2 linked regions of the Homo sapiens genome follow. The gene in region 1 interacts genetically with each later gene. Each region holds a gene or a part of one and is shown on either strand. Other genes may lie near its edges.

Region 1 (4,240 bases):
CCTGAACTTTTCTCCCCCACAATATAGCCTACTACTGGCACTTAGGAAAGTCAGTGTTTTAGGATTTTGGAGGCAGCCAAAGTCAGTCTTGGCAGCAAGCACACTAAGAGTCACAAAAGTAGAGAAGTAAGAAAGGGTGACACTAGACTCAGAATGCCTCTGTTCATTTTACTCCTGTGGCTCACAATTCCTGCCTGGTTCCTAGGGTTTCTTTAGGGTCTTGTGAGAGAGAATTTCCAGCGAAGCACCTCTTCCCCCTCCTCCTTCAGATTTGGCTCAAATGATACCTGAAAGGCCTCTCTGAGGGCCTGGGCCTGTTCCCGGGTGCGATTGTCCTGCCAGGGCCGGCCTGTAGCACGTGTGGGGCCTGCACGGAGACTCTCCCCAAAGACATCCAGGTAAAAGAAGACATAATCCCCATTGGTCAGATTCTCCCTCTGGGCCTGAAGCAGGATCTCATGCAGCATCTCCAGAGGGCCGCAGATATACACAACTGGGAGCAGGTACATGACAGAGGAGCACCCTGAGAAGGTATCCAGGTCCCCCACACAGCCCCCTCTCTGAATCACTGGGATGTCCCTCTTCAGCAAGAAAGAGAGTGCCCTAACCTATCAACCCCAAAGCAGATGCTCCCCAGCCCACCCCTCTTGGAGTCCACCATAAGTACCCTGGGGCCATATGGACCATCTGGCAGAAGTCAGAGCCTGTCCAGACCCCAGAGGAAGGGAGCTGTCACTCTCAAGCCCCTCCCTTTCCCAGAGCCTCCCTTGCTGCTCCCCACCCAACCGGCCTGCTCCCTGACTCTTCCCTGCCCTTCCCTGGGCTCAAAGGCACAGACAGCACAGATTTCTCAGTATGAGCTTTATCTGTCTTTCCCAAATCTGCTGAGCCCTGAGTCCGTTCATGGAGCCCTCATTATTTTTACACCACCAAGGGGTCTTGGCGCCCAGTCTGGGTGGTAGCTCTGATCACAGACAGGGCACATTTCAGAGTGGCTATCAATCACATTCACTACTCTAGGGCACAAACATTGCTCCCGAAACTTAATATCCCCTCATTTTCACATTCCACCTTGATACAAGGCTTCACCCCTCATGCTCTCTTCTTCCTTGTTTGCATCTGCCTAGGGTGTTCACAAGCTCCCATGATGAAGCCTTGGCCCTCTCACAGGTGCTCTGTCCACGTGTGCTTCTTGATCCCAACCACCACATACAGCTGCTCAATGCCTATCTCCATCTACAGTTCCCCAGTGCTGAGCTTTAGGGACACAGCGACCCTCCTCCCATGACCCTAAAATAGCCCAGGCCACACTCACTGCGCCCGTTGGCCCGGATGAAGTGGGTGGCCTGCTCGGGGCCCCCTGGCTCTCGGGCATACACCTGGTGCTGCACACTGAGGTTGCTGCCCTGCAGGGCCTCAAAGACGCCCTCGATGGTGAAGTAGTGAGGCCGGTCATCTGTGCGAGCATCCAGGTACAGCAAGGCAGCACGGGCAGTCCAATTGAAGTGCCCGTGTAGTGTCACCACAAACTCACCCAGCTTGGGAGCAGAGGGGCCAGTGCGAACCAGGGTACGATAATGGTCATTCTTAGCCGAAAAACCAGAGGCCACAGCACCCGCAGTCAGCAGGGGAAGGCGCCAGTGGGAGGCAAAGCGGGCCACAGAGGCAGCAGGGTACACGCAACCGGGACCTAACAGCAGGTCGGGGTCATGGTACAGCTTGAGGTCCACAGCGCTCAGCGGTGCCAGGTACTCAGAGCAGGCGCCTTCCAGTTCGGAGCTGACAAACCGCAGGTCCACGGGCAGTGCCCGGCCCAGAGCCTCCACAGCTAGTGCCACAGCGGGTCCCACCCGTGGCCAGGCCCAGGCATAGCTCAGGTTGTGTTCTGGCAGCACCACCGCCAGCGTCAGGTTCCGCGCCCCGGGAGGACGCACCCCACCTGCCAGGGCTGCCACCAACAGCAGAAGTGATGGCAGCGCCATGGGGATAAAGCAGCAGCCCCACCGCCCCCAGAACTTGGGGCTGCTCTGGCCTACAGGGGAGACGCGAGCACCCCCCAGCCTGGAGCCTGGGGAAGAGGGCCAGGAAGAGGAGGAGTAGGCTAGGTAGGCTGGGATGCAGAAGGTGCTGGGGGCCGGGGAGAGGAGGGGGAGATGGGAGGAAGGCGGGGGGCGGGCAAGGAGTGGGCTACCAGCCTAGGGCAAGGACTGAGGACTGAGAACGGGGTGGCAGGGGGAGGGAGGGACCGAGGGGGCCTGCGGCCAGGATGGGGACAGTGCGAGGTGAAGAAGCCTGATAAATCTAAAGCTGAGAAGGAAAAGGGGATCTGGGACTGGGATGGGGTGGGGGTGGGGGGCGGGTGGTACAAAGAAACGGCCTGGGGGAACCTCACAGCTGAAAGGGCCGGGAGGGCAGGAGGGCGCTGCGCCACATAGGACCAAGGGGGTAAGGTGGGAGGGTGCCCGCGCCGCGGAAGGACTGGGATCATGGGCAGGCGGGGAGCGAAGCGAGGCCTGGGCCGGAGGGCAGGGGAAGGCAGGGGTAAATCTCCCTGTGAAGGATTCTCCCGGAGCTCCTGCTTGGACTAACGGGCCCGGGCGCTGGTCCCATCCGGAGCTACGGCGGCCCCGCCCGTGTCCCCGCTCCTCTCTGCTCCGCTTCTCCTGGGCCCTGGCGGCCGGCGCTGCCCGGCGCTTCCTCCCGCCCCCCGCCTGGGCCCCGCGCGCGCCGCTCGTCCGGGTCAGGTCGCCTCGGCCCGGCCCGTCTCCGCTCGCTGCGCCGGCGGCCGAGTGCGACTCCCCCGGGCAGGCCGCCCGCCCCCGCCCCTCCCCCGCTGCCTCTCCTCCTCCCTCCCGGCCCCACCCTCCGGCGCCGGCTGCCTTCCCCCACCCCCCACCCGGGCGCTCGGGACCGCCAGGTCCCAAACCCACCCCGGTGAGCACTTGGGGGCTCCGCACCAAGGCCTCGCCGGCCAGCAGGGTTCCCGGGCGCTCCCTCACTCTCAGGGCCTACCCTGGTCTCCCCCACGCCCCTGGTCCCCCTGCCGCCCCTCCTTCCATTTCCATCTCACACACGCCAGCGACCCCAGGGTTTGTCCTCTCCCCCTCGCTCAGCCCGTTCTTCTTGGGTCTCCCCTCTGAACTCCCTGAGTCCCTCAGTGGTTCCAGTCTCCAGGAAGCAGTCGAGGATCCCCAGACGTGTGGTATCCTCACCAGCCCCCTCACCTAGCAAACCATAGCGCCCTCCCGACGGCAGTGCGGCTTACTCCACCGCGGACCATGCCCGCTCCCTGGACGGGCCCCTCCAGCAGCCAGGGGCCCCTGCTGTACACTTCCCACCAGTCCTTAGAAAGTCCACGAGGCTCCTTCTTGCTTGGGACTCAACTCTCGGCCCCCCGCTGTCTCCATGCCCCCTGCCCTCCTCGTGTCCTCAGAGGCCCACCGCAGCCCGCCCGGCTTCCTCCGCACCATCTGCTCAGTCAGGGCCTCGATTTTCTTTTGTCTCCTGCACAGCGCAGGCTGGCGCCTGGGGAAAGCCTGTAACGGACCGGCGGGACACTCCCCGCAGTGGAAGCCCATCCACGCTCTCCTGGGGTTCCACCTTGCTCCCAGCTTCCCTTAGGAAGCTCTCCCTAGGGCCCTCATATCTGGAGTGCCAATCTGACCCCAAGAACAGCTTGTGAGGGATGATCTCATGGTGGCTGAGAGGGACTGCTATGGGACCTTGGGGATTTTTCTCCAACTGTCATAAAGGACATGCACATAAGCCCATTCTCTGCCCGCGCTAAGAGCCACGGTTTCTCTCCCCCCTTCAAGCTATTTCTCCAGAAATCACAAGCTAAGAGCGCTCCTGGAGCCCTGGAGTGGGGTGGGAGTGTATAGGGCGAGGACGGGCATGGTTTCCCTGAGATGAAGGCGACACCTAGTGGTTTGGTGGGGGAAATTAAGGACAATGCCACTTTATCCTTAGGCACGATATTTATTGAACACCGGCTGCCTAGCACAAGCTGTACCTGTGAATACAAAGAAAGCCGAATGATACAGCCCTTACCTTTGAGGAACATGCATTTGCAATCCCTGGGGCACAGAGGCCAAGAGCAGGCCGTCCCTAACAATGTTCTTGCCTCAAGCCCAGTAGAGATGGAAGCCTCAGGACAGCTCCTTCTTTAACGCAGAGGGGTTGGTAACTCTAGTTCCAGGCTCCCAATACTGCAGTGAAAAGGAATTTTGTCCTATCTGGC
Region 2 (4,005 bases), 120 kb from region 1:
GCAATGAACACCTCCTTTTCTTTTCTACCAGTGAAGGCTTTAAGTGTCACCTCCTCTGTGACCACCATCTTTACTATGTCCTTCCTATGTGTCTGTCATGTCAGCCTCCCCCACTGGCTGTGGGCTCCTTAGAGGCAAGGACCTACAGCTTCAGAATCCTTGTTGGGGGCTGGTGCCTGGTTCACAGTGGGTGTTAAATGAACAAACAGTGCGTGAATGAGTTTGTCAGCCAGGGGCCTGAGTGAGCTTGCTGGGATGGGGTCTCTGGCTCCACGATAGAGTCCGGGAGGAGCATGGGATGGGAAAGCGGGGAGTAGGGGGTGTCCAGGATCTGGTACCTCCAGAAAGGCGGCCAACACGGCCAGGCCTCCCGGGCGCCCCAAGGCCTCGTCAACTCTGGCAAAGGCGGTGCTGAGGTGAACCACGTGGATCTGAAAAGGACACGAGGGTAGGAGAGGGCCACGTCTCTGGCCCCGCTCCGCCCCGCTCCTTTGCCCCTTCTCGGCCAGCTCCGCGCTCACCTCGGCAGGGAAACGGTGGCCTTCCACAGTGTGCTCCGAGCCCGGACGACCTGCAGCCCCCCAGTGCAGATGCAGCTGCAGAGCCCGGTACTCCCGCCCGGGACCCAGAGCCATCTCTAGCCCAGGAGGCAGGGTCAGTTGCACTGCGTAGGGAGAGGCAAGTGAGCCGGCCCCGCCCGGTAGGGCCAGCCCAACCCCCGGGCAGGCACTGCCGCGACGGTTCCCTTCCCTGCGCCCCGCCCCATCCCCAAGTCTCGGCGGGGAGACCCCCTCACCACTGTGGCCATTGTTGCGCAGGCGCAGTTCTGGGAGCGGCGGGAGCTGGAAGCCCAGGAGTTCCAGGGGGCGCAGGGCCGGGCAGAAGGCGGCGAGCTGGGGGCGGATATCCACCGGGGACTGGAAGCGGCCCGCGCAGGCTGGGGACACCCGGGGCCAGGGCGGGTCGCCTGGGGTGGGAGAGTATAGTGAGGAAGTCTGACGCCTAGGTCAGGAACTTAGGGAACCCGGGTAGAAAAGGTGAGGGGGTGGGACGGTGGGCGGCGGGTGGGACGCCCGGGACCAGTGTTCAGGGACGGCTGTAGGGGAGATCCACAGAGCTGGGTTCCCAGATTGGGTCTGTGCAGCGGGTGGGTGTCTCACCTCCATAGCGCCAATGACTCTGGTCATCCCCTGTATAAATGAAAAGGATGAACCGCTCAAGCTTAGAGCCCCAATCCCTTCCTGGCGACCAAAACGATGTCACAAACGCAGATGCCTTACAGGAGCATTACGGGTAACAAATGCCTTAAGCGGGCCAGGTGCAAAGCACAGGAGACCGCACCCAAACTCAACACCGCAGCTGGGTGGGCCAAACAGCAATCCTACCAGCTTGCAATCATTGTCTTAGGGTCTGTAAAAGTGAGTGGCTGCTTCAGGCCAGGCGCTGTGGCTCACGCCTATAATCCCAGCACTTTGGGAGGCCAGGGTGGTTGGATCACCTGAGATCAGGAGTTCGAGACCAGCCTGACCAACATGGCGAAACCCCGTCTCTACTAAAAATACAAAAATTAGCCGGGCGTGGTGGCGCATGCCTGTAATCGCAGCTACTTGGCTAGAGGCTGAGGCAGGAGAATCACTTGAACCCGGGAGGTGGAGGTTGCAGTGAGCCGAGATCGCGCCATTGCACTCCAGCCTGGGCAACAAAAGTGAAAGTTTGTCTCAAAAAAAAAAAAAAAAAAAGTGAGTGGGCACTTCAGTCCTGAGTCCCAAATGAGTGAGTACACCATCTTTCCTTTCTCCCTTCTTTCTTCTCCCCACTCATCCCTCTGCCTTGTATGGTCTCCAACCCCTTTCCCCAAATTCCTGGCTTGGGAGTCAAGAAGCCACGTTTCTCTACCTGCTGTGTCCCTTCTTCCTAGGTCTCAATTTCCTCATTGTAGCCTAAGATGAGATGACTTCTACCAGCTCTTCTTGCTTGTCTCTGGTACCCACTTCACCTCCCAAGCTTTCCTTTTCTCTTCCCCTCAAACTCTCTGACTCTCCTTCTCCACCTATTTTTTTCCTCTGTCTGCACATTTTTTCTCTCATCTGCAGTTCTCATCCCTTTCTCTTCTCCAGCCTCCCCCTTCTCTCCCATCTCATCCAGCTCACCTCTCTCCTTTTGCACCCTTTTTATTTTCTCTCCACATCTGTCCCTTTCTACCTCCGAGAGTGGGGATGGGGATATTGGTATGGGACCTCTGGAAGGGCTTCTGTGGGGAGTACAGTCTCCCCTCCTTCCCTGAGTGAACAGAGCCTAGGCTGGGGTATGGGAGGGGAGTCATGAACCTCCTGGAACCTGGATTTGGAGATTGATGACCACTTACCTTCTTTGTCCCTGTGGGCATTATTCTGGGGTTCTTGAGGATCTCCAGGAGCCTCAACAGTAGGTAGATCCTCTAACTTCAGGGAGCCCTCTTCTTCTGATTTAGGCTTAACTTCAGGTAGATCCTCCTCTCCAGGTAGATCCTCCTCTCCAGGTAGATCCTCCTCTCCGGGTGGATCCTCCTCTCTGGGTGAATCCTCTTCACTGGGCAGATCCTCCTCGCCCAGTGGGTCATCTTCCCCAGAAGAGCCTCCTCCCAAGGGGGAATCCTCCTGCATCCGGGGCAACCTCTGGGGATGGACAGGCACCAGAAGCAGCAGTGACAGCAGCAGTTGCACAGTGAGGCCTGGAGCAGGGGCCGGGATCAACAGAGGGAGCCAGGGGCTGGGGCACAGGGGAGCCATGCGGCTGACTGTGGGGTGTCCCAGCACACGGTGTGTACGGGCTGTACGTGCATTGGAAACGAGAGCTGGGTGGGGGAGGAGCAAGCCTGGAGGGGAGCAGGCTGACTCACAGAGCGCCCTTTTGCAGAGATGGAGCCAAAGTCTCACAGGTTTGTCTGGCCCTGTGCCCTCTCCCCCATACCAAAGCTAGGATGGGGGTGGAGTGAGGGGCAGGTGTGTGCACAGGCAGAAGGTTATCGGGGCCATGGACTCAGCTTGGAACCCAAGGCACCACCTGGCACTATGCAGGCTCTCCCTGGCACCACCCAGCTGCTTGCCAGCCAGCCTCAGCTAACCCTGGCCTGCTTCCCAGCTCCAGGCACAGAAGGGGAAAGGCAGGGGAGCTGGGGCCCCCATGTCCTCTGGCTGAGAGGGAAAGCAGCTCATGTATACATCCCTGACTCCACCAGGAAGCAGGTAAAGAGGTAGGGCAGGCTGCTAGGGGAGCCCGAGGGTGAGTTAAGTAATGGGTATGTGGGAGACAAACTTGAGCTTGAATGAAAAGCAAGTGTATGTGTCAGAGGGGCTCTGATAGGTTTAACCTATATTTATTTTTCAACACATTACTCTCCTGCTCAAAAGCCTTCATTGGCTCCCCACTGCCTGCCACGATATGCACATTGTGTACTTCTGACTTCCAACTTCCTTCAAAACCTTGCCCAAGAGACCTTTCCATCTTGTCTCCTACTACTCTCCCTCATACTCTAGCCAAATTAAACTATTATTTTTTTCTCCAAACCTTTTACCACCTTTGTTAATCTAGTTCTTGCTCCCTGAAATGCTATTTACTATTGCATTCAACAAATATTTATTTAGTACTACCATAGGTCCAGCACTGGGCTATGGACTAGGGACATGGAAATGAATAAGACACGGTCCCTCATTTTGGGAGGCTGAGGTGGGTGGATTGCTTGAGTCCAGGAGTTCGAGACCAGCCCGGGCAACATGGCCAAACCCTGTCTCTACTAGAAATACAAAAAAATTAGCCAGGTGTAATGGCATGTGCCTGTAGTCCCAGCTACTCAGGAGGCTGAAATGGGATGATGGTTTGAGCCGAGGCGGTTGAGGCTGCAGTGAGCTGAGACTGTACCATTGCACTCTGGCCTGGGTGACAGAGCAAGACCCTGTCTCAAAAAAGAAAAACAAAAACAAAAACAAAAAACGCTACCTGCCCTGAGCAGCTCACAATCTAGTGAGT

What was found.
Region 2: changes in NPR2 (region 1) and CA9 together harm fitness less than expected from each alone (positive genetic interaction), as found in Homo sapiens cells (one large-scale study listed by BioGRID).

The regions. Positions count from the first base shown.
Region 1 is NC_000009.12:35,790,151-35,794,390, reverse strand, and holds the start of NPR2 (atrial natriuretic peptide receptor 2 isoform 1 precursor), read right to left. Parts: upstream 2,801-4,240; 5' UTR 1,983-2,800; coding exon 1,316-1,982; intron 494-1,315; coding exon 288-493; intron 1-287. UniProt on the Homo sapiens protein: Receptor for the C-type natriuretic peptide NPPC/CNP hormone. Has guanylate cyclase activity upon binding of its ligand. May play a role in the regulation of skeletal growth.
Region 2 is NC_000009.12:35,672,723-35,676,727, reverse strand, and holds the start of CA9 (carbonic anhydrase 9 precursor), read right to left. Parts: upstream 2,801-4,005; 5' UTR 2,769-2,800; coding exon 2,366-2,768; intron 1,191-2,365; coding exon 1,161-1,190; intron 968-1,160; coding exon 797-967; intron 665-796; coding exon 522-664; intron 432-521; coding exon 339-431; intron 1-338. UniProt on the Homo sapiens protein: Catalyzes the interconversion between carbon dioxide and water and the dissociated ions of carbonic acid (i.e. bicarbonate and hydrogen ions).